2 separate regions of the Homo sapiens genome follow, and region 2 is linked to region 1. The links come from fine-mapping of genetic effects on plasma protein levels. A gene starts in region 1. The other region holds a variant in brackets. All regions are shown on one strand. Distances are between the middles of the regions. Region 1 holds the start of TNFAIP2 (TNF alpha induced protein 2). Region 2 has its middle 20 kb from the start of TNFAIP2.

The links. PIP is the posterior inclusion probability: the model's chance that the variant is causal. The UK Biobank Pharma Proteomics Project read protein levels with antibody pairs (Olink). The fine-mapping took linkage between variants from a reference panel, not from the people measured, so its PIPs are less certain.
Region 2: its variant is fine-mapped to the plasma level of the TNFAIP2 protein (UK Biobank, PIP above 0.99).

What each region holds. Positions count from the first base shown.
Region 1 is chr14:103,114,142-103,125,499 of GRCh38, forward strand. It overlaps TNFAIP2 (TNF alpha induced protein 2), which reads left to right and starts at 9,320. Exons shown (of 12, transcript NM_006291.4): 1 at 9,320-9,810. It overlaps LINC00677 (long intergenic non-protein coding RNA 677), which reads right to left and starts at 8,768. Exons shown (of 2, transcript NR_138038.1): 1 at 8,468-8,768; 2 at 6,708-6,890. RefSeq lists enhancers at 8,251-8,783, 8,784-9,317 and silencers at 8,982-9,261, 9,562-9,611.
Region 2 is chr14:103,137,614-103,149,146 of GRCh38, forward strand. It overlaps the pseudogene NDUFB4P11 and the pseudogene RPL21P12. Among named protein-coding and RNA genes, the nearest start is that of TNFAIP2, 20 kb to the left of the region's middle. RefSeq lists enhancers at 2,704-2,753, 2,784-2,833. The variant T/G (reference allele first, on the strand shown) is at 5,248.

The DNA.
Region 1 (11,358 bases):
GAGGGCGGGGTCCACAGTGCCCCAGGTCACAGGATCAGATCCTGCTGGGAGCCACCCAAATCTCAGCCTGGCCTCCTGGGACCCTGGTCTTGGGAAACACTTGGAGGGGAGTGAAACTTGGACAAGTCACACCCACCCCTCGGTCCATCCTCTCCTGGGCCCTGGGGGCCTGGGCCTCTCCAGGGACACCCTCACTTCTGTCTGCACATATGCCCACCCATCTATTAGCAGCCTTAAAAATGTGTTAAATGCTTAATAATGTGTTGGGTAGCAATACGTTCACATAGGTCAAAATTTAAAAGATACGCAAAGGGTATAGGGTAAAAAGTCCCCTTCTTATCTCTAGTCTTCCTGCTCCCATTCCCAGAAGTGACCGAGGTTCCTTGCGGGACACTTGAGTTGTTAAAAAGGGATTCTTGCCCAAGGGATTTATATGAATGGTGACATTCTGGGCATTGGTGAGGAACCTGTTTTTGCTGGAGGTGGTTGACAGGATAGGGCAGTCGTTTCTTTTTTTCTTTTCTTTTTTTTTTTTTTTTTTGAGATGAAGTCTTACTGTGTCACCCAGGCTGCAGTGCAGTGGAGTGATCTCAGCTCATCACAACCTCCACCTCCCAGGTTCGAGCGATTCTGCTGCCTCAGCCTCCCAAGTAGCTGGGATTATAGGCACCCACCACCTTGCCCAGCTAATTTTTTGTATTTTTAGTAGAGACAGGGTTTCACCATGTTGGTCAGGCTGGTCTCAAACTCCTGACTTCAAATGATCCTCCTGCCTCAACCTCCCAAAGTGCTGGGGTTACAGGTGTGAGCCACTGTGCCTGGCCTGGGCAGTCGTTCTTGATCCCTATAAACATCAAATGAGGAACTCAAGGCTCTTAGACGGATAGAATCCTCAAATAATGGGCTCTTAGAATCTTGGGGAAAACAAAAGTCACCAGTAGAGGGTCGTGACTGCAAGTTGTCCATGTTCTTGGCGTTTTGAACAAAGAATTGGACAAAATGCCCAGCAAAGCAAAGAAAGAATGAAGCAACGAAAGAACGAAAGCAGGGATTTACTGAAAATGAAAGTACACTCCACAGTGTGGGAGTGGCCCGAGCAGCAGCTCAACAGCCCAGATACAGAATCTTCTTGGGTCCAAATATCCCCTAGAAGTTTCCCGTTGGCCACTTCATGCTCACCTCATGTAAATGAAGTGGTGGCCTGCAATCAACCTGATTGGTTGCGGAAAGCAGCCAACCAGAGGCTGAAGTGAAGTTACAAAGGTCACACTCCTGTGCAAACATCTGATTGGTTGCAAAAAGCAACCAGTCAGAGGCTAGGGTGAGGCCGGGCGCGGTGGCTCACACCTGTGATCCCAGCAGTTTGGGAGGCCAAGGCAGGCAGATCACTTGAGGTCAGGAGTTCAAGACCAGCCTGGCCAACATGGTGAAACCGTCTCTACTAAAAATACAAAAAAATTAACTGGGCATGGTGGTGGACACCTGTAATCTCAGCTATTCAGGAAACTGAGGCAGGAGAATTGCTTGAACCCGGGAGGCGGAGGTTGCAGTGAACCGAGACAGCACCATTGCACTCCAGCCTCCCTAGCAGCTGGGATTACAGGTGCCCGCCACCACGCCCAGTTAATTTTTTTGTGTGGGTTTTCCTTTCAATATAGTTCTAGGAAGTAGGAACGAAACAGCCTTAGGTTCCCTGCCTCCTATTCTCCTGCCTCATCATGAGAAGCTCTGCTGTTTGTGGGGCGCCCACCATGTGCTTTACTCTGGTGGTGTATGATGTTCCTGCTTTCCCTGGACTCAGGGCTGGCATTTCGAATCAGCTTCTGGACTCAGACACCTCTGGGCTGGAATCCTAGCTCTGCGCCTTCCTAGCTGTGTGACCTGTGTGAGTCACTCCACCTCTCTGGGTTCCATCTCCCTGTGTAAACTGGGGAGGATTACACAAGAAAATGCAAGAGTTGGCTGGAGGAGGGCCTGGCTCTCCAAGAGCATCCTCCTACCTGTGGCATTCGTTGTTATTTATCTGCACTACCTCCTTTAAGCCATCCCTGCCAACCCTCTGAGTGTGCCAGTGCCATCTCCAGGAGGTCCCAAGGAAATGTCACTGTCCCAAGCAATGTATGGAAAGACACAGCTCTAAGCAGTGGAGTACCAGGGCCCAGGTGGTCTCCACGCCTCAGCCCACAGTGGGATGCCCTCCTTCTCCAAAGTCTGGAAGTCAGAGCTCCTGGCTGTCCGGCAAGGAGGGGGCTCCCAGAACCTGGGCTGGAGGCAGTCACAGGGCCTGCGTGGTTTTTGAGCAGCCTCTGTTACAGTAGACAGACGTGAGCAGGGCAGGAGAGCACCTAGGAATGTCACGCAACCATCAGGTGATAGGCAGTTGTTACACTGTCTCTCTAAAATAATAATTGGTCGCAGCCAGCACCAGGGAAAGGCAGTTTCCCAACATAGGTGTTTCTCTTACATAGAAGCACCTAGTACTAGTGATCAGCAACTTCCCGATAAGATCTCAGGAGTCGGGTGAGTGGGCTCAAGCATAAGCACTAAGAGGCAAAATGGCAGAGCTTAACTCATGTATGACCTTCCTCGGGAAACCCTCGACGGGTAAGGGAAGAGCGCCTCACATGAGCATGTGCACCACTTCAGTAAACACACCGCGCATGCGGCCCCTCCCAGGTGCTGGCATGGCAGGCCATGGCGGCGCGTGCGGACAGCCCAGCCCAAGGGAAGAATCCTCAGAAAGAATGCAATGGCCCCCCGCCGGAAGTGGAAGCATGTCAACGTATAAAACCCCAAGTCAAAGGTCAAACCACACACTAGAATCCCTCAAGTCACCCGCTTGGCCTTCCAGGTGTACTTTCCTTCCTTTCATTCCTGCCCTAAAACTTTTTTTTTTTTTCTTTTTTTTTTGAGACAGAGTCTTACTCTGTCACCCAGGCTGGAGTGCAGTGGTGCCATCTTGGCTCACTGCAACCTCCGCCTCCCGGGTTCAAGCGATTCTCCTGCCTCAGCCTCACAAGTAGCTGGGACCACACCTGGCTAATTTTGTATATTTAGTAGAGACAGGGTTTCACCATGTTGGCCAGGCTGATTTCGAACTCCTGACCTCAGGTGATCCGCCTGCCTTGGCCTCCCAAAATGCTGGGATTACAGGCGTGAGCCGCCACGCCCGGCCACTTTTTTCTTTTTCTTTTTTTTTTGAGACAGTCTCACTCTGTCGCCCAGGCTGGAGTGCAGTGGCGCAATTTTGGCTCACTGCAACCTCTGCCTCCCGGGTTCAAGCCATTCTCCTGCCTCAGCCTCCCAAGTAGCTGGGACCATACCCGGCTCATTTTTTATTTTTAGTAGAGACAGGGTTTCACCATGTTGGCCAGGCTGATTTCGAACTCCTGACCTCAGGTGATCCGCCCGCCTTGGCCTCCAAAAGTGCTGGGATTACAGGTGTGAGCCAGCGATCCCACGATCCCAGCCTTTTTTTTTTTTTTTTTTTTTTTTTTTGAGATAGGGTCTTGCTCTGTTGCCCAGGCTGGAGTGCAGCCACATGATCTGGGCTCACTGCAACCTCCACTTCCCGGGTTCAAGTGATCCTCTCACCTCAGCCTCCTGAGTAGTTGGGACCACAGGTGCCCACCACCACGCTGGCTAATTTTTGTGTTATTATTTTTATTATTTGGTAGAGACAGGGTTTTGCCATGTTGCCCAGGCTCTTTCTCTAAAGCTTTTAAATAAACTTTCACTCCTGCTTTCAAACTTGTTGCAGTCTCTCACTTTGCCTTAGACTTCTCAGTTGAATTCTCTTTTCTGAGGAGGTAAGAACTGAGGTTGCTGCAGACCTGGATGGATTTGCTCCTGCTAACATACTTCAGTGCTTCATGACTTGGATATAGTCTCTCCCGGTAACACCTCCCCTCCCCTCCTCTTCCCTCCCCTCCCCTCCCCTCCTCTTCCCTCCCCTCCCCTCCCCTCCTCTTCCTTCCCCTTCCCTCCCCTCTCCTCCCCGACTTCCTTCTCCAAACAGCCCCATGAAGCAGCACTGGGCTTCCCAAGAGAGGTCCTGCCACGTGACTGGCCTCTGTCATTGGCAGAACCCTGCATAGGCCGTAGCTCTGCAGCTGTTTTCCTGGAAATTATGCCGGCTCCGAGAAGGGCCCATGTTCTACAGGAACCCCAGGCAGAAGGGACCGGAGCTGCACTTAGGCATTTTGCATCAGTACCAGAGAGCTGTGGTGAAAGACTAGAGTTTTAGGAGAGCTGAACTTGGGGAGGAGAGTGGCCGCTTGCAGCTGGCATAGAGAACTTCCTATGCCCATGAGTTCCACCAGGACCCACTCCTCCAGGAAGCCCTCCTACACCACACTATTTGGAAGGCCACTGGGGTTGGGGTCCTGCTGCCCCATAGGCCCTGCTTTCTCTCCCATGGCCCTTCTCCAGCAAGGACAGTGGGTCAGGCTCATGGAATAGCTGCAGAAGCCATACCTCATCAGGCCTCGGTTTCTCCATCTGCCAAATACGAAAAGGAATCCTTGGCCTGGCTTCCTCCTAGGAGGAAAGGGGCAGGGGGGCTATCAACAAATCGACAGTGTCCCGTGGGGCTGGGGTGGGGCACCGCCTGATGGTACATGTCTGGGCTGCTGAGGGTCCTCATGCTCCCTCCTTTGCAGGAGGGGATGTGCCGTGAAAGTGGCTCCTGGTCAGCTGTCCTGGCCATCCCACAGTCCCGGAGGAGGTCAGCAGACTTCAGCCAGGGTCTCATGGAGCTGTAGGTGATGCTGAGCAAGTCACTGCTCCTCTTGGGGAAGGCTGGGTGGCAGCAGGGACCTCAGGCTTAAGGCCTCAACCTCTGTGCCTGCTTCTCTGAGACTCAGTTTCCTCATCTGTCAACAGGGAACACAATGGCCCCACCCCATGCAGACAGTAGGGCATCCCCAGGAAGAGTCTCAGGGCTGGTGACAGCCTGAGAAGTGAAAGGGAGAAGCAGGGTGAGTGTTGGGGTCCTGGGAACCAGGGTTAGGGCAGTGGGAAGTGCAAGTCATCATGCAGAGGGAAGTGGGCCCGGGCTGCTGGGGGAGGGGCTAGGTGACCCACCCTGAGGTCAGCACCACTCTTGTGACCAAGGCTAGCAGCTGCAGCCACGCCTCTGGCCAGGCCCAGCCACCTATAGGCCCTCTGCCCCTCGTGATCACCCACCACCCTGGGCCCTGCTCCAGGTTGCTCTCCCTTCTGCCTTCGACTGCCCTCTTCTTCCTTTTTTTTTTTTTTTTTTTTTTTTGAGATGGAGTTTCACTCTTGTTGCCCAGGCTGGAGTGCAATGGCGTGATCTCAGCTTACCGCAACCTCTGCCTCCCAGGTTCAAGTGATTCTCCTGCCTCAGGCTCCCGAGTAGCTGAGATTACAGGCATGCACCACCACACCTGGCTAATTTTGTATTTTTAGTATTTTGTATTTTGTATTTTTAGTAGAGACGGGATTTCTCCATGTTGGTCAGGCTGGCCTCGAACTCCCGACCTCAGGTGATCCGCCCGCCTTGGCCTCCCAAAATGCTGGGATTACAGGGGTGAGCCACCATGCCCAGCCCCAACTGCCCCTCTTCTAGAGAGCTTTCCTCTAGGTGCCTTCAAGAATGCAGAGAGAGGGCCAGTAATGTGCCTCCCTGTGTTATTCTCTGGTCCGTGCTGAATCGGCCTTTTCTGCTGCCCTACAGGGCGCAGGTGGAGGTTTAATTAATGGACTAAATGAGGTAATGAAAAAGATTGGGAAAAATTTTTTTCAAGGTGAAAAAGGAGTGAAGGATAGTACCTCCCATTTCTGCATCTAAACTCCTTGGTCTAGAAGTCCTTTCTTGTGTCTGACTTAAATACATCAAGCTGAATTTCAGACGCTGAGCAACGTTGGAGGAGAAGCAAGATAACACTGTGCTTAGTGAAGGGGCTCCTAGCTTCACCACTGGCTGGCACATGACTGGACCGCTCTGTGCCTCAGTTTCCTCATCTGTGAAAAGAAGAGAGTTAGTGCCCACTTCATTAGGCTGTCCGATGAAATCGGCTAATGTATACAAAACACTTAGAACAACGCCTGGCACCGGTGGAGATCAACAAACATCAGCAGTCTACCCAAAAGAATTGAAAGCAGGAACGTGAACAGATATTTGCATACCCGTGTTCTTTTGTTTGTTTGTTTTTGTTGTGAGACAGGGTCTTACTCTGTTGCCCAGGCTGGAGTGCAGTGGTGCAATCATGGCTCACTGCAGCCTTAACCTGCCAGGCTCAGGTGGTTCTCCCACCTCAGCCTCCCAAGTAGCTGGGGCTACAGGTGCACCCCATCACACCTGGCTAATTGTTTGTATTTTTGGTGGAGACAGGGTCTCACTATGTTGCCCAGGTTGATCTTGAGTTCCAGAGCTCAAGCGATCCACCCGCCTGGGCCTCCCAAAGTGCTGGGATTACAGGCATGAGCCACCACACCTGGTATACACACCCATGTTTTATAGCAGCACTGTACACAGCAGCCAAGAGGTAGCAGCAATCCCAGTGTGCACAGAGAGATGAATGAATGCACAGTGTAGCCCATCCATACAATGGAATATGATTCAGCCTCAAAAAGGAAGGGAATTCTGATACCTGCTACCACATGAATGAATCTTGAAGGCATTATGCTGAGTGAAATAAACCTGACAACGCCCTCCTGGCAGATGCAGACACAAAAGGATAAACGCTGTGTGACTCTATTTATTTGCAGTACATAGAATAGTCAAGACCACAGAGACGAAAGGTAGAATGGCGGTTGCCAGGGCCCGGAGGAGAGGGAAAGAGGAGTTAGTGCATAGTGGGTAGAGTTTCCGTTTTGCCAGGTGACGATTTCTGCAGGTGGAGGGTGCTGTTGGTTGCACGACCCTGTGAATATACTTAATGCCACTGAACTGTGCACTTAAAAGATTATAAATTGCATTATGTATATTGTACCATAATAATTTTTAAACAGTCAGCTGTCATTGCTCTGGCAGACAGAAGGGAGGGAACATCCCATGTGTCGTAGCCTCTGAGGCCCTGGGTTGCGTGCGAGGAGCTGACCGTGGCTCCTGGCCAGGTGCTGGCACACTCGCCTTCTAGGCTAAATGGAGAGGTCATTGCCAGTCTGCTCCTGTCTGCTGCCCTCCCCACCAGGCAGAGCCCCCTGCTCACTGCCCCTGGCCTGTGCCCTGGGGAGCTGGGGAATGGGACAGCCGCTGGCCACTGGTCACAAACATCGCCACCCAGCATGTGATGCTGGCTTCCTGCTGGGGAGGAGCCGTAGGCTGGCCTTTGGCTCCTCTGGAAGTGCCTGGCCTCTTGGGAACTGCTTTCTGCATCTGCGAGAAGAGGGTAAGGACTGCTCCTGCCCTATGGGCCCCATTGGCTGTCATCCCTTGGGCCTCCATGCTGCCCCATTTTCAGAAGACTTTCCTTGTCTTGAGGACTTCACGTATGTTACCATTGACCCTCATGCCTGAGCTTAGAGAGGGGAAGTGACTGGTGCAGACACAAGTCCAAGGCAGCAGCCTCGTTTCCCAATCCCCAGCCGGTGCTCTGGGCGGGCCACTGCCGTCAGTGGGGGACAAGGGTGGCAGCCCCGCCTCAGCCCTGCAAAGCCCGTGGAGACCAGGGGCTGCCTTCGAGGGGACAGTGGGGCCTAAGGCCTGACAACGCCCTCCTGGCAGATGCAGACTTCCCGAGCAATTTCCCGATCTGCTTGGGAATGGGAGGGGGGGTGAGGGGGTGGGGTGGGGGAACAGAGTCTGGCAGGAGAGGCTTGTGGGGATTGCACAATGAGGCCACAGCAGCCAGCCGTGAAGGCAGCCACCGGCCAGGGCCCCTCAGCCCGTATCCTCATCGCCCCTGTGTGGATGAACTCCATCTGCGCGGTGCCGGTGGAAGGACCCTCCCAGCCCCGGGACACCGCGGCTCTGTGGACTCATCTGAAAAATGTCATCCCTGGAGTCCTAGGAGAGAAGGGGTGGGGTTGGCAGCCTTAACGCCCCATCCTGCATCCTGGCGGCCTCCCGCATCCGCTCCCCCACAGGTTCCCCAGAGACAGGATGATGGATGGCAATCCGAGTGCAAACCTGGCGCTTGGCCAGCACTCTGGAAGAGGAAGTTCTCAGTTCCCAGGGCACCTGAACCCACAGCCGCCCCCACTCCGCTGGCCCCCCTGGTCCTGGAAGACCTGTTACTAGGCTGCAGAAGGGGTGGCGGAGTGATCAGGGGGCGGGGAAAGAGGCCAAACAAAAGAGGGGAGGAGCAGAGGCCCCAGTGAGGCAGGAGGGAAGCCCCTGCCCAGCGGGAAATTCCTAAATGTCTGGGTCCTTTCCAGAGGGCAGGAATTCCTAGCCTAGAGTGTGAAATAAGGAAGGAAGTGAATCTCCAGTGGGTTCCCTTCACAGCCCCTTTCCATCCTCCCCACATGCCCCACCCCCACATCTCCCAAAACAAACCCTGAGAGACGGTGTGGATGGGGAGACAGGCCTGGAAACGGAGGCCTGCGCTGAATGGGCAAAGCCGGGTTGATGATCCAGACGAGGCCCTGGAGTCTGGGCCTTGGGCCCCTCCCCTTCTGCCTGCTCCGGCAGCCTGTGGGTCCAGCCCCAGCCCCAGAGGGGGAAAGGCTCCAGTGGGAGTCCCATAGGCCTGGCTAGGAACCCCACTCCGCTACTTAAAGTGGTGTGAGCCGGGTCAGCCACTTCACCTTTCCGCATTTACGCATTTCAAGCAAGGCTTGACGACCGGAGGGGCTCAAGGCCCTGTGCACAGCCGCGCGGCCAGCACTCTGGCCAGCCTTGTAGCCCCCTTCCCCTTAGGGGGCCTCCTTCAGGAAGCCCCCGTCCCCTGCCTCCTTGTGGCCACGGTGACACCGGAACACTTCAGAGGGGCGGCTGGGGAGTTGGGGTGGGACGGGCTCTCCCGCAGCTGGAGCCGGTGTGTGACGCGGGAACGCGGCCAAGCGCGCCCCATCCAGGCGGCCTATCAGGAGCCGTCGTCGGACAATGGCTCCGCGCCTGACAACCCCGTCGTCCCCGTGCCGTCCCCCGAACTCCACATACCATGCGACGCGCGGCCAGCCCCCCGCCCCTGCCCGGCTGCTGGGAGGAAGTGACAGCGCCCCGCATCCCCCGCTGGGCAGGCCGGGCGCGCCCAGCCCCTGGGACGCAGGGACACAGCCGGGCCGCGCTGGGCCTTGGCCTCCGCCCGCGGGTTTTCCGCGGTTGCGGCGGGGCGGGGAAGGAGGGGCGGGCGGGGCGGGGCTGACTCTGCGACTATTTCAGGCCTTGCGGAACCCGGGCCAGGACAGTGGCGGCCAGGCCGGGACACGGTAAGTGACCTCCGCTTCCACACGTCCATTCCCCGCCGCTCCGCGCGGCTTCTCGCCCGCCCCTACCCCGAGGCCAGGCCGGATTCCCCGAGGAAAGAGCCTGTCGCCGCGGCGGGGACAGGAGGGGGCTGGACGCTTCCAGGGAAACTGAGGCCCTGGCGCGCCCAGCGTCCGCGCGTCCGGGCGCAGAGGGGCCAAGGCTGGCTGAGGGCCCGGGCCTGCCAGAGGCAGGGAGGGCGGGGCTGGGGCAGGCGCAGGGGTCTCCCCTCCATTACAGCAGAAAGGCCCCAGGTCCGGCGTGACTCCCCGGCCGGGCGACACAGGCCGAGTCACTTCCTCGCCCGTGCCCGGGTGTCCTCATCGGGGGATGGGTGCGCCTTCCACATCCTGCCCAGGACTGAAGGAGCCGGGCCCAGCGAGCTCCCGGGAGGTGTGTGGACATCAGCCCTGACGGGGAAGGCGAGCCAGGTCAGTGGACCTGAGGAGAGGCCGGGCAGCAGGAGGCTGGGGGGCGCTGTTGAGCCACTGGCTGTGACCCCTCTACGAGCCTCCCAGCAGGCCCCTTCCTGCCTCAGTGGGCCCAACCAGCGGCAAGGCTCAAAGGAACGCCCCTCCTCCCCTTCTTCCTTTCTGGCTGCACCGGCTCGCTGCTGCCTGCAGGACAGACTCAGGACACAGGAGACTCACCCCCACTGAGGCCCAGCTAGGCGCCCAGCACTTGGCTGTGCGGTTTGGCCACATCCCCTCAGCAGCACTGTGGGGTGGGGGTCCTCATCCCCTTTTCAAAGACGGGGAAACGGCGGCTTGTGAAGGAAGGAGGTGTGCAGTCCACACACTAGTGAGAAGTGTGCTGAGCCCACACCGAAAGCGTTTCTCTTTCCATGGCACCAGCTGCCTCGGAGAGCGGAGACCTGGGGCGAGGCCCAGGGGGCTGCAGCAGGACCTTCAGGCGCTCTGGGTTTCGTGTCACAGAGGGGAGAAGGCGGTGATGCTGTGGGGGTCCTGCGGGAGCTGTGCCTGGAGGTGGGACAGAGCCTAGTACATGTGGGGTGGGACAGGGAAGGCTGAGGTGAGGCTGGCAGGGAGCATTGCTGGTAAGGGCCACCCTCCCCCACCCCAGGAGAATGGCAGAGGTGGGGCCTGGGCACCCAGGGTGGGGCTGAGTGGCCCTGCCAGACAGACCAGCTCCCGCGGGTGCTAGGCATGCACCTGAGAGGGGCTGGGAAGCGAAGTTGGGGCACCGGGTGGGGAGCAGAGGTGCCCCATGGCCTTGCCCCTGGGGCTCCCTGGAGCATGCCCCTCTTGGTCCTGGAGTGGAATGCTCAACCCAAATGGCACTAGGGAGGCCAGTGCCATCCAGGAGTGTGGGACTCTGCCCAGGGCACTGGGTGAGCATGGCAGGGGCTGGGGGTGGGAGGAGCCCAGGCTTCCTGTCCCTCAGGTGGCTCTGGCCAAGCCCCTCCAGGATGGGGACAGGGTAGTGGGGCTGGTGGAGGCAGCGGGGCCATGGGAAGAGTCGGATGGGCCCAGTCTGAGCCTCCATGGCTGCTGTGCTTGGGGCAAACACCTCCTACTCAGCCTCAGTTTCTCCTTCTGGATGGTGGATCATCCTGCCTGCCTTGCAGGGCTGTTTCAGGGGTCACTTGAAGTTACCATGATACATGAGACAAGGCTGCATGCATTTAGTCTTGGGGTGGGGCAGACAGGTGGCATCAAGGTTACAGGTCACCCCAGTTCTTGGGGAGGCCCAGCCCCTGCCTGCTTCCCCCTTTCAGATCAGCCATGCTCTTCTCCAGTGGACCTGGCCTTGCTCTGACAATGGTCAGGTGCTGGGCAGGGACTCTGGGGAAGCTCGGGTCTTGCCTCTCTGGATGTAGCTTGCAGGATAGCTGGGGATGTGGAGGCAGGGGAAAGCTGGGCTCTGGGACCGGGTGGCCTGAGTTCCAAGCCCAAGCTATTGACTATAGGGACAGTTTAAGCCGAAATAACACCCTTCCAGATGAGAGAAAGGAAGAG
Region 2 (11,533 bases), 24 kb after region 1:
CATCCCCTCACTGTGAGCAGGAGCTTTGGAAGTGTCTGCCTGTAGGGCATGGACAGTCACTTCACCCTTCCGTGCCTCAGTTTCCTCATCTGTAAAAAGGGGACTGTGACCCTTTGGGGCTTCCTCCACCGTCCTTTACTGAGGAAGAGGGTGGGGTGGACACGGGGCAGCCATTTCAACCGCATGCACGGGACACAGAGTGGGAACTGACTCTTACCATGCTGGCATTGACCTGAAAGCTACAGCTGTGGACACAGGAGGTCTGGTTTGTATTCAGAGACGGGCTCAGCTGCCACGGAAGGGTGGGCCTCTCCGCAGCCAATCTGGCCTGGAATTTGGGAAGGAGCAGAGTCCCTGGAAGGGAAGAAGGGTACCTTGATGAACGTTGCACAGAGGCCGGGGAGGGCCCCAAGGGGAGCCGTGTGCACCTGAAGAGGGGTGTGGGCTTCAGCAGGGCCTGGGACAGCCCGGAGCTGGGGGTGGGGGAGGGCAGGCCCTTTCTCCTGAGTTCCATTCTTGGGGCCAAAGCGGATGGCATGAGGCCACCGTGCAGTGAGAGAAAGGAGGGAGACGAGGGCCAGGGGCAGTGCGGCTTGGCACGGAGACCCTCTGCCCGGCTCCTGGACCCGCCGGTCCATGTGGCTGCGAGGTCCTGGCCTGGTTGAGCCACGTGGGGAGCGTGGGCCTTGGGCGGGCGAGTTCCCGTTCCTCTCCTCGGAGCACAGGGTCAGGGGGAAGTGGGGGCAGCGCGACTCTCCCCTGCATGGCCCCCTGACCCTGGGCAAACGTGGGGAGAGATGGCGCCTGAGCCCCGATGGAAGCTGTCAGTGGGCCCTGGCACACATTCTCCCACGGGGGCGGACTTAGGTCCCAAAGTGACCCCCAGCCTCGCGGCGGCCAGGGCGGGCCGAGTCGTCGGAGCGCGGCGGGACCTGGGGCCAGGTGGACCCCCCTCCCCGGGCTGCGTCCACCCCTGGCAGAGGGGCGGGCTCCGGGCGCGAGGCCCCAGGCGAGGAGGAAGAGGGTGCGGGCGGCGCCTTGGAGGTTCCTGCTGTTCCTGCTTTTCGGGGCGGGGGCCTTCCGGGTCACTGTCCCGCCAGCTGTTGGATCTGCACCAGTAACTTCTCCAGGAAAATCCCCCGGAGAGGAGGATCTGCCCGGCGGAGGGGAGCGAGTCCCCCAGCGCGGGGACAGGGCGGGCGGAGCGGGGCCTGGGCCAGGCCTGGTGCCTTTGTGCAAGGACGGGCCCCGGGCTGCCCAGGCTCCTGTGAGCAGGGGTGGAGCGGGGAGGCCGCAGCCCCCGCGGAACACCGGGCGCCCCCGGCCTCCAGCAGTGGGAAGCAGCCCGGGGGCTGACGCTCCCTGCAGGAGCCAGGAGCAAGCAAACAAGCAGCTTGAGTGCAGGCGCGGGGACGGGCCGGGGGTGCCTGCGGGTGAAAGGGCGGCTCAAAGGGACAGTCGCTGGAGGCCCGGTCTTGAGGAGGTGCCTGGAGCAGACCCGGGCTGGGCGCTGCGGGGGAGGGAGGAGGTTGCGGAGGCCGGCGGGCGGGAACGGGGAGGAATTCCAGGTTTCAGGCAAAGAAAGACGGCAGGACTGGGGAAAAGGGATCCTGGACAGGAGACTCCGCAGGAGGAAGGAGGGGGCCGGTAAGTGGGCTCCTTCCAGCTGGGGAGCGGGGCTGGAAGGGGCTGGAGACGCGAGTTTCAACTCATGGGATTTATGGCTTGGAAAGACCCCTCTGCCCTTCGGGGGCGCTGGGGTCCCCAGGGGAGAGATGAGGGCGGCAGCGAGGGCCCCCTCGTGCAGTGAGATGGAGCGAGCTCTCGGTGGGCTGAGGGAAAGAGCAGCCCAGGGGCTTCTAAGAGACCGGGAGGGAACCAGGCTGCTTCCAGGGACAGGGAGGGCCTGGGAGGGGAGAAAGGGCTGAGGAAGCGCTTGGTCAAGTTCAGGGGGAGAGGTCCCTCCGCACTCGCAGTTGTGCCCTGTGTCACCACGATGTTGTTCCCAAAGTATTCTTCTGGTGTTTTTTTTATTTTTATTTTTTCCTTCTTTTCACAGGTGTTGACCCAAAGTATTTTCTCTCATGCCTGGCCACTCTGCCCTGGACCCTCAACCCAGCCGAATATGACACATCTCCAGAAACCCAGCAGGCGCAAGCCGCAGGGTTGGCCTTAAAATCCTGCTTAAACAGGAGACCCTGGAGGCCTGCTTCAGTGCCACCAGCCTAACCGCCAGGGCTCATCAAAGACGCTGCCCAGATGCATTGAACGTAAGCAAGATCAGCAAAGGTTTATCTCAACTTCAGACTCACTCCCAGAAACTCACTCTTGGGAGCTCTCTGTGGAATTGGGCCCCCCTTCTTCTGGTATTATGTTTTCAAAACTGACAGGGATATGAAAGAAAAACTTATCCAGGAAAGAAAATTGGGTTGAACATTTAACATCTCATTTAAGTCTTGCAATAATGGCTATATGTATTTTTGCTAAATAAATCTTCTATTAATCTTTTTTTTTTTTAAAGTTTGAGATGTCTGCAGAATGGGCATGTGGTTCATTAGAGTGACCAATACCCCGGTGAGTGACAACACTTTGTGTGCGAGGCTGCCGGCCGCCAGGCCCTCTCTCTCGCTCACTGCTTTGGGGGCATCATTTTGCACAGCCCCTGTGGAGGGTGATTTGGGCTTCCGGGTCAGGCTGACAAATGCAGGAACCTGTGAGGCAGCCATTCTCCTTCCAGGAATGTACCTTATCCATGCTCTACCAGCTATGCAAAGCAACTTGAGTGCCAGACTAGTCACTTCAGTTACAGTAGCAACATACTGGAAACTCCCTAAATGCCCATCGGCAGACACCAGGGAAATCACTGCAGTGCACCCAAACAATGGAGTACTATGTGGCGGTGAAAAAGAATGAGGAAGTTCTCTCTGTTCTCATGTTGACATTCAGGACACATAACGTTAAGTGGAAAAAAGCACAGTGCAGAGCAGAGTTTGTGGTGTGTGTGTGTGTGTCTGAGAGAGAGAGAGAGAGAGAGAGAGAGAGGTGAACAGGGTTGGATGGGGACAGAAGTTAGGAAGGAGGTATTTGGCCGTATAGCTTGTAAATTTTCATTATGAGGCATGTGAATGTGTTATATTATTAGCATTTTATAACTGAACATTTAACTGAGAAAATGAAAGTGGTGTTGCTGGAGATGGGAGGAGAGAGGAGGAAAATACTTTAGTGTCTCAGGGGTAGGCTCAACCAGCCATGTCCAGCGCCTCTTTGAAGTGGGTTCATCAGCAACCTGTGACTTGGCGTGAAGCCAAGTTCAGCGCTGAGGTGCAGACTGTAATCACAGGGCTGAGTTTAACCAAGACTCTGGTTTTGTCAGGCGATCACTATGGAGGATGATAGCTGAGCCGTGGGAGGGGCTTGCCAGGGAGAAGTCATACCGATGGGCGATACCCATACTGACTGCTGCTATACCCAGCAGTCCCTGGTCGCCCCCAGAACTCCCATCCTCTGACCCTGTGCTGCCTTGCAGCCCCTCAGCCCCCCATGCATGCCCCCCATGCATGCCCCCACCATCCCTGCAGTGAGACCCCGCAGCCTCCTGAGATGCCAGGTAAGCCATGCACAGCCAGGTGCTGTGCCTCAGAACTTGCTGCAAAGCTACTTATGCAAGGCGGGGGAAGCCGTCCTGGGAGGCTGTGCAGGTGAGCAGCCAATAAACAAGTGAAAAGAAACCCCCCTCCCTCCTTGTTTGTCTCTCCAGCGCCCTCTACTGACAGTGCACAGCACCGTGCCAGCAGGAGAGAGGGAAAAGTTCCAGAATCCCCAAGTAGGGCAGTGAAAGATGGGCTTGGGTCAGAGGCAGTAGATGGATAGCAGGCAGTTGCTTTCCATATGCACCCTTTTACACACGTTTAACCTTTTCTAAAAATTCCAGTAAATGCAATACATGTATCCTTCCCACAAGTGAAGATGCACTCACGCTGTCTCCAAAATGAGGAGACAGTGAGGACAAGGTGCCAATGGTTACTGTAGCCACTGTTGGCTCTGTTAATTACACCACAAATTCAACCACAGTCCACTGAATATCTTGTTACCTGAAGACTGAATGGTAACACTAACCTCCAAAAAATTGTGTGTACAATACAGATGCCAGCGAGAGAAAACAGGAAAATGGTTGGCATGTGGAAACAAACACGTGAAAACAAGCAAAGGAAACTAAGCAAAACTACTACACTCCTTGCTTCCGTGACAGTTGGGAGCCGAGGCTTGAAGTCCATGGTTCCTTCTCCCATCACTCATCCTGGATTTTCCCCTCCCTCAGCCGGGACCTCAGCTAGTTGGTGATCTTTACTTGATGAAACAACTAAAACTTTCATTTCAGAAGGTTCTGAGTCCTCAATTTTCCTGCCTTTCTATGGCTGGGGTAGTTTTCCATGAACCTTTTCTATTGGCCATGGAAATAGTCAGAAGTGCCGCAGAGAATGAATGCCCTGATTTCCAGACATAGTAGCAGCTGCCTGGTCTCCCAGGAGAATCAGAACCTATCACTGCAGTCAAGAGAGCAATCATTTTTTAGGTCTTTTGGTGTCATGACAGAATGAGCCCCAGATGGCCAGGTGGCGGCATCATCTTTCAATTTAATGAAACCATTGCTGTGTCTCCTGGTTGAAGGATGTTCCTCTCCGGGACTAAGACCTTCACATTAGCAGAGCTCAAAGTTGCTGCGACAGGAAGCAAAAATCCTGCCAGCTGGTTGTTATTGGGGGTAATAGTAAGTGGATCCCCCTCATATCAACTGGTTGCATGGAGTTCTAATCGGGGAAGAGGAGTCAGGCTGGGGGGAGCAGGGAAAGCAAAACAAACAAACAAAAAACAGATAAGCTATAAGCCTGCCTTTCTACATGGCCCAGGACACACAGAGCCCTCCTAAGCAAATAACTCACAATCTTCCTGTGCCCATCTTATCGCCAGATCCTCAGCCGATAGACAAGTGTCAGTTAGCTCGCTGCAACCTGGGCATTATCAGCACTGCGCGTGGCCCTCTCCAGCACAAGCACCATCCTATAAAATCCCCCACAAGTCTTTGTCTCCTTGTAGTCAGCTCCCCTTTTGCTGATCTGCCCATTGCTTTCTTGCAATGTATTTTCCTGTGTTCTCTAATAAGCCTGCCTGTCTTTACCTACAACTCTCTTGGTAAATTCCTTTATTGCATGCGCCACTGGTCCTAGTTAGTCACTACCTGTGACAGCT[T/G]GGTTTCTGGAGCCATGCATTTTGGCTATAAGGGAAGTAGAACCATGTGGTGGCCCCTGATTCAAAGCGTATATGGAATCCTGTAAAATAGAGTCCATCTTTCCTGGGTATTGCCACTCAGTCTTTTGCTGAGGCTAGCTCCTTCTGGGTGATAGAATAAGCAGTAAGATCAGTGAATTCCACGGCCACGAGCCACTGTGGCATTTCCTTGGTGGTGAAATGGGTTCCTTGGTCAGAAGCAGCCCTGCATGGAAGCCATGATGGTGAAAGGCATCACGTGAGGCTACAAGCAGCAGTGCTGCAGAAACACTCTGGGTAAGGGAGGCAAAGTGTGTCCCTTCCAGGAAGGTGAGTCTGTGTCCCCTCCATGATGGAAGAGACCAGGACCCACCTGCTACCAGATGCTGGCTGCTCTCTGTGGGGGAAGGTGCCATCAGGCACTCAGTGCTGCTCTCTGGGGTTGTGAGAGGGGGCTGCCAGCAGTGAGATTAGTCAGACCAGCCTGGAGAGATGAGCCCGTGTTGCTGGGCCCATGCGTAGCCTCCATCTTGGTCACCATAAATACATTGTTTGTGGGTTCATTGAAAAAGCGCTGGTGTGGCTAGGGAATTGTGTCCCCCCAAATTCATCTTAAAATCGTAACTCCCAATGTGGCCCTACTTGGAGCTAGAGTGTTCACAGAGGTAATCAAGTTAGAATGAGGTCATTGGGTGGCTCTAATCCAATACGACTGGTGTCCTAAAAAGGGGAAATTTGGAGACAGACACAGGGAGAATGCAGTGTGAGGATGGAGACAGATCAGGGTGCTGCTCCTGTCAGAGGCATTCGAACCAGAGTGACTCCATCTTGAATAGGGGCTGGGAAAAATGAGGCTGGGGCCTGCTGGGCTACATTCCCAGGAACTTAGGCATTGTTAGTCGCAAGAGTTTACGGTTGAGGGAGCAGATTAATAATGTTTACTAACAGACCTGGAATGTCCTGATGTCCCAATATCTTGAGAACGCAAGCATTCCTAGTTTAAGACGTTTTGTTTTAAAGATAATATCGATTCTTGTGAAAGATGGTAATTACAAAGATTAATCCTCTATCACAAACCCTTGTAGTAAAGCACATCTCCTATGATTTTCGTATCTTAAACAGGCATTGTACTTAGGCTGGGCTTGGTCCTCCTTTTACTTTAAGGAATGCCCTTCTCTGTCTATAGTCATTCTTTTTTTTTTTTTTCTTAAAAAATATATGTATATATTTTGGGGGCTCTATTTTACAGGATAATATATATATGTATGTATCTTTTGTATATATATTTGTGTTACAGGCCGAAAGAATGAGGGTGGTGATCAGTTCAGTATACCACTGGAGGCTCTATGAGTAAACAGCAAACTGTTTCTCATAAATGCGGAATGTTGGCAAACTGACAAACTGTGTCTGCCACCCAGAAGGGATGCTGAGGGCAGTCACTCCCCAAACGCAGTGTTTCTTGAGATTAGGTACATCTGAAGCCTGTTAGTAATAACATGAACCTGTTATCAATTAGCAGCCGACCAGTCATTACCTCCTCCTCCCTGCTCTTGCTACCCAATAAATATGAAGGGCTATGGAAGCTCAGGGGCTGCCTTTGTCCACTAGAAGCAGGGAGCTCTCTTCATCCTTCCCTGGACAGTTCCTTTCAAACAGTTTCTTTTGTCTTCAGTTTTCATTTCTACGTTTGTCTCTTCGTTCAGTCTTGTAATGACGGTCTCAAGTAGTAAAAGTAGTAATTGTTGTGGGGATGATCTCAAGTAGTAACCGTGGCAGTCAGCCACATATTTGTATATATATATTTACAGGATACAAATTATATATATATATATTTTAAGACAGAGTCTCACTCTGTTGCTCAGGCTTGAGTGCAGTGGCACAATCCTGACTCACTGCAACCTTTGCCTCCCAGGTTCAAGCAATTCTTGTGCCTCCGCCTCCCGAGTAGCTGGGATTACAGGCACACACCACCACACCCGGCTAATTTTTGTATTTTTAGTAGAGATGGGGTTTCACCATGTTGACCAGGCTGGTCTTGAACTCCTGACCTCAGGTGATCTGTCTGCCTTGGTTTCCCAAAGTGTTGGGATTACAGGCGTGAGCCACTGGTCCTTGTCAAAAATATATATATATATAATATATATTTTATATTTTATGTTTTATATATATAAATATAAAATATATATATTTTATATTTTATGTTTTATATATATAAATATAAAATATATATTTTATATTTTATGTTTTATATATATATATATAAATATAAAACAGGCGTGAGCCACTGGGCCTGGCCAAAATATATATATATATTTTATAGAGACAGGGTCTTACTATGTTGTCCAGGGTAGTCTCAAACTCCTGGGCTCAAGCAGTCCTCCTGCCTTAGCCTCCCAACATGCTGGGATTACAGGCATGAGCCACCATGCCCATCCAGGAGTAGCTATTCTTTCATTCCTTTACTCTCTTAATAAACCTGCAGCTAGGTGTGGTGGCTCACACCTGTAGTCCCAGCACTTTGGAAGGTCGAGGCGGGCAGATCGCGTGAGTCCAGGAGTTTGAGACCAGCCTGGGCAACATGGTGAAACCCTGTCTCTGTGAAAAATTTAAAAAATTAGCCAAGCATGGTGGTGTGCACCTGTAGTTTCAGCGGAGGTGGGAGGATCACCTGAGCCTGGGAGGTGGAGGTTGCATTGAGCCAAGATCACGCCACTGCACTCCAGCCTGGGTGACAGAGTGAGACCCCATCTCAAAAGATAAAATACATAGAATAAAACAAACTTGCTTTCACTTTGCACTGTGGAATTGCCTCTAATTCTGTCTCGTGTGAGATCTGAGAACGCTCTCTTGGGGTCTGCATTGGGGCCCCTTTCCAGTAACACTTCTACAAGCCAAGAAAGGCCAGAGATTGACAGAAAACTCCCACAGCTGGGAGACGGGCTGGGATGGAGTCTCCCTCACTTCCTCAGAAGGAGGCAATTCTGCTGACACCTTGACCCCAGACTTCTAACTTCCAGAACTGGGAGATGGCACGTTTTTAGGGCCTAAGCACCCGCAGCTTGCGGCACTTTGTTGCAGCATTCCTAGGAAACACACAGGGTCTGGCTGATGACTTCACAGAACTTCCTTCTTTTACCTGATTCAGCCTCTTCTGAAGGGGACACCCTTTGCTGAGCATTTATATGATGCGCAAATGTTCCTGTAGTCTGTGTCCATCTCGAGAGGCTGACCGCATACTTCTTCCTCAGACATCCTTGTTACCAAACTTCCAATCCTTTTCTTCCAGGTCCCCGAACATCCAACCAAACTGTTAGCAGCTGTTTCTAAGTGGGCACGGATTTGTACCTCTGGGCATCTCTCTGTCTGCATGTAGTGGACAGCCGAGTGAATGGCTCAAACTGTGCGCCTAGGGAGGGTTCCTTCGCTACCGGGGCTCGGCCGGTGGAGCTGTAGTACTCATGTCTACTTTTGTGGGAACTGGCATAGCATGCCGAGCCCTCTGTCACCAGGCTCGAGTTTCTTCCTCAGCCAACTGGGTGTGAGGAGTACCCGGGGAGGCTGGAGGCATGGATGGGGAAGGGAGACAGGGCAGCAGGGGTAGGTGCTGAGGGAGTCTGGGCCACCTGCCTTCCCTGTGAAGTTCCCATGCCGTCTGGACCCACCCCAGCTTGCCTCTACTGCGTACATGGACTGAGAGGCCACCGCTGCAGATCCCACGCCTGGTGGCTGGGTGGGTCCAACCATGCCCGGCCCCTAATGGGAACTAGGCTGAATGATCACCTAATGACACAGGGGTGGGCGTTCAGACTCGAATCCCAGTAGAAAGCGAGAAGCAGTTTCTCAGAAGGAAACTAGTTATCTACAGAAGAGAGCACAGAATTGCTCCACAATTCTAGAGGTCCGGACTGCAATTTTCCCATTGGCGCTTGTCATGGATATGTTGAGCAGCAGTGGCTCACAGGGCTGGGCGGCACAGAGGCTTGTACGCATAGAGCAGCCCAGGCCTGCAGAACCTCCTCTTGCTCAGCCTCTTATGGAAACTGGCTGCCTTATGGGGCACTCGGGAGATGGGTCATGGTAACACACTAAAATGTGTTGGGCCAGCCTGGTGGCTGACACCTGTAATCCCAACACTTTGGGAGGCTTAGGCACAAGGATTGGTTGAGGCCAGAAGTTTGAGATCAACCTGGGCAACATAGTGAGACCCCCAAAAGCCCTTCCAAGCATTTGCCTCTTTCTTCATAGTAGGTAGTGGGAGGTGTAGCAACTTGCCTTCACCTTAGAGTGAATATTTCAAAATTCTCCAGCCCAAATAACCCCCAAGAAGCTTAGAAATCACAGGTCTCAAATTTGGGGGGATTTATCCCCCATCTTCTAGCTGACATATGTTTTATTAAAGCTTCTAGAGGATGTGCTATTTCTTATCAGATCCAATCAGCTTTATATCACCAATGCAGGGGGCCAGTGTAGTGGTGTGTGGAATGTTAAATAATAAAGATCAATTTGGCCAGGCGCAGTGGCTCACGCCTGTAATCCCAGCACTTTGGGAGGCCAAGGCGGGCAGATCACTTGAGATCAGGAGTTCGAGAACAGCCTGGCCAACATGGTGAAACCCTGTCTCTACTAAAATACAAAAATTAGCCAGGTATGGTGGCCCACGCCTGTAATCCCAGCTACTTGGGAGGCTGAGACAGGAGAATCGCTTGAACCCAGGAGGCGGAGGCTGTAGTGAGCCAAGATCCCGCCACTGCACTCCAGCCTGGGTGATAGAATGAGACTCCGTCTCTAAATAAATAAATAAAGATCAATTCATAGAGATGGAAAGTAGAATGGGGGTTGCCAAGGGTTGGGGACAATGGGGATTTATTGTATGATGGGTGCAGAGCTCCAGTTTTGCAAGGTGAAAGGAATTCTGAAGATGGATGGTGATGATGGTTGCACGACAATGTGAGTGTGCTGAATGCCACTGAAGTGTAGACCTAAAAATGGTGAAAATCGTGAGTTTTATGTTATGTATGTTTCACCACAATTTAATAAATAAATACAAAGTATAAAGGAAAAAAGGAACTGAAGCATGGATTAAAATAAAGGATTTTCATGTTGTTTGACTACATTTTAGAAAGCAGTGTGTTAGGATCTTGATACTGTAAGAATGGTTAAGATACTAGCAGCATGGGTACTGCCGGGAAAGGTTTTAGAAAGTCAGAATGCCTGCCTCAGCTGGGTGCAGTGGCTCACACCTGTAATCTCAGCACCTTGTTAGACCAAGGCAGGCAGGTTGGTTAAGTCCAGGAGTTCGAGACCAGCCTGGGAAACACAGTGAGATCTCATCTCTACAAAAAATTAGCCAGCATGGTGGTGTGTACCTGTAGTCCCAGCTACTTGGGAGGCTGAAATGGGAGGATCACTTGAGCCTGGGAAGTGGAGGCTGCAGTGAGCTGAGATGGTGCCACTGCACTCCAGCCTGGGTGGCAGAGTGAGACCCTGTCTCAATCAATCAATCAATCAATCAATCAATCAGTAAAAAGAATGCCTTCCTCAGACCTACTAGATCAGAGTCTGCAATTGTACAATCCCCAGGTGACTCATACAAATTAAATATTTATCTGAGCTTTTTTTGAAGTATAAGATACAAACAATAAAGCTTACTTAAATACAAAAATAAAAGATAACAAAGCCCTTTCAGCCGGAACCGCCGTTTTCCAGTAATTCGCCAAAATGACGAACACAAAGGGAAAGAGGAGAGGCACCCGATGTATGTTCTCCAGGCCTTGTGGAAAACATGGAATTTTTCCTTTGGCCACGTACATGCGAATGTATAAGAAAGGTGATACTGTAGACATCAAGGGAATGGGAACTGTTCAAAAAGGAAGCCGCACAAGTGTCACCATGGCAAAGCTGGAAGAGTCTACGATGTTCCCCAGCATGCTGTTGGCATTGCTGTAGACAAACAAGCTAAGGGCAAGATTCCTGCCAAGAGAACTAATGTGCGTATTGAGCACATGAAGCACTCTAAGAGCCGAGACAGCTTCCTGAGACGCGTGAAGGAAAATGATCAGAAAAAGAAAGAGGCCACAGAGAAAGGTACCTGGGCCGGGCACTGTGGCTCACGCCTGTAATCCCAGCACTTTGGGAGGCTGAGGCGGGTGGATCATCTGAGGTCAGGAGTTCGAGACCAGCCTGACCAACATGGTGAAAACTCGTCTCTACTAAAAATACAAAAAATTAGCCAGGCATGATGGCACGCACCTGTAATCCCATCTACTTG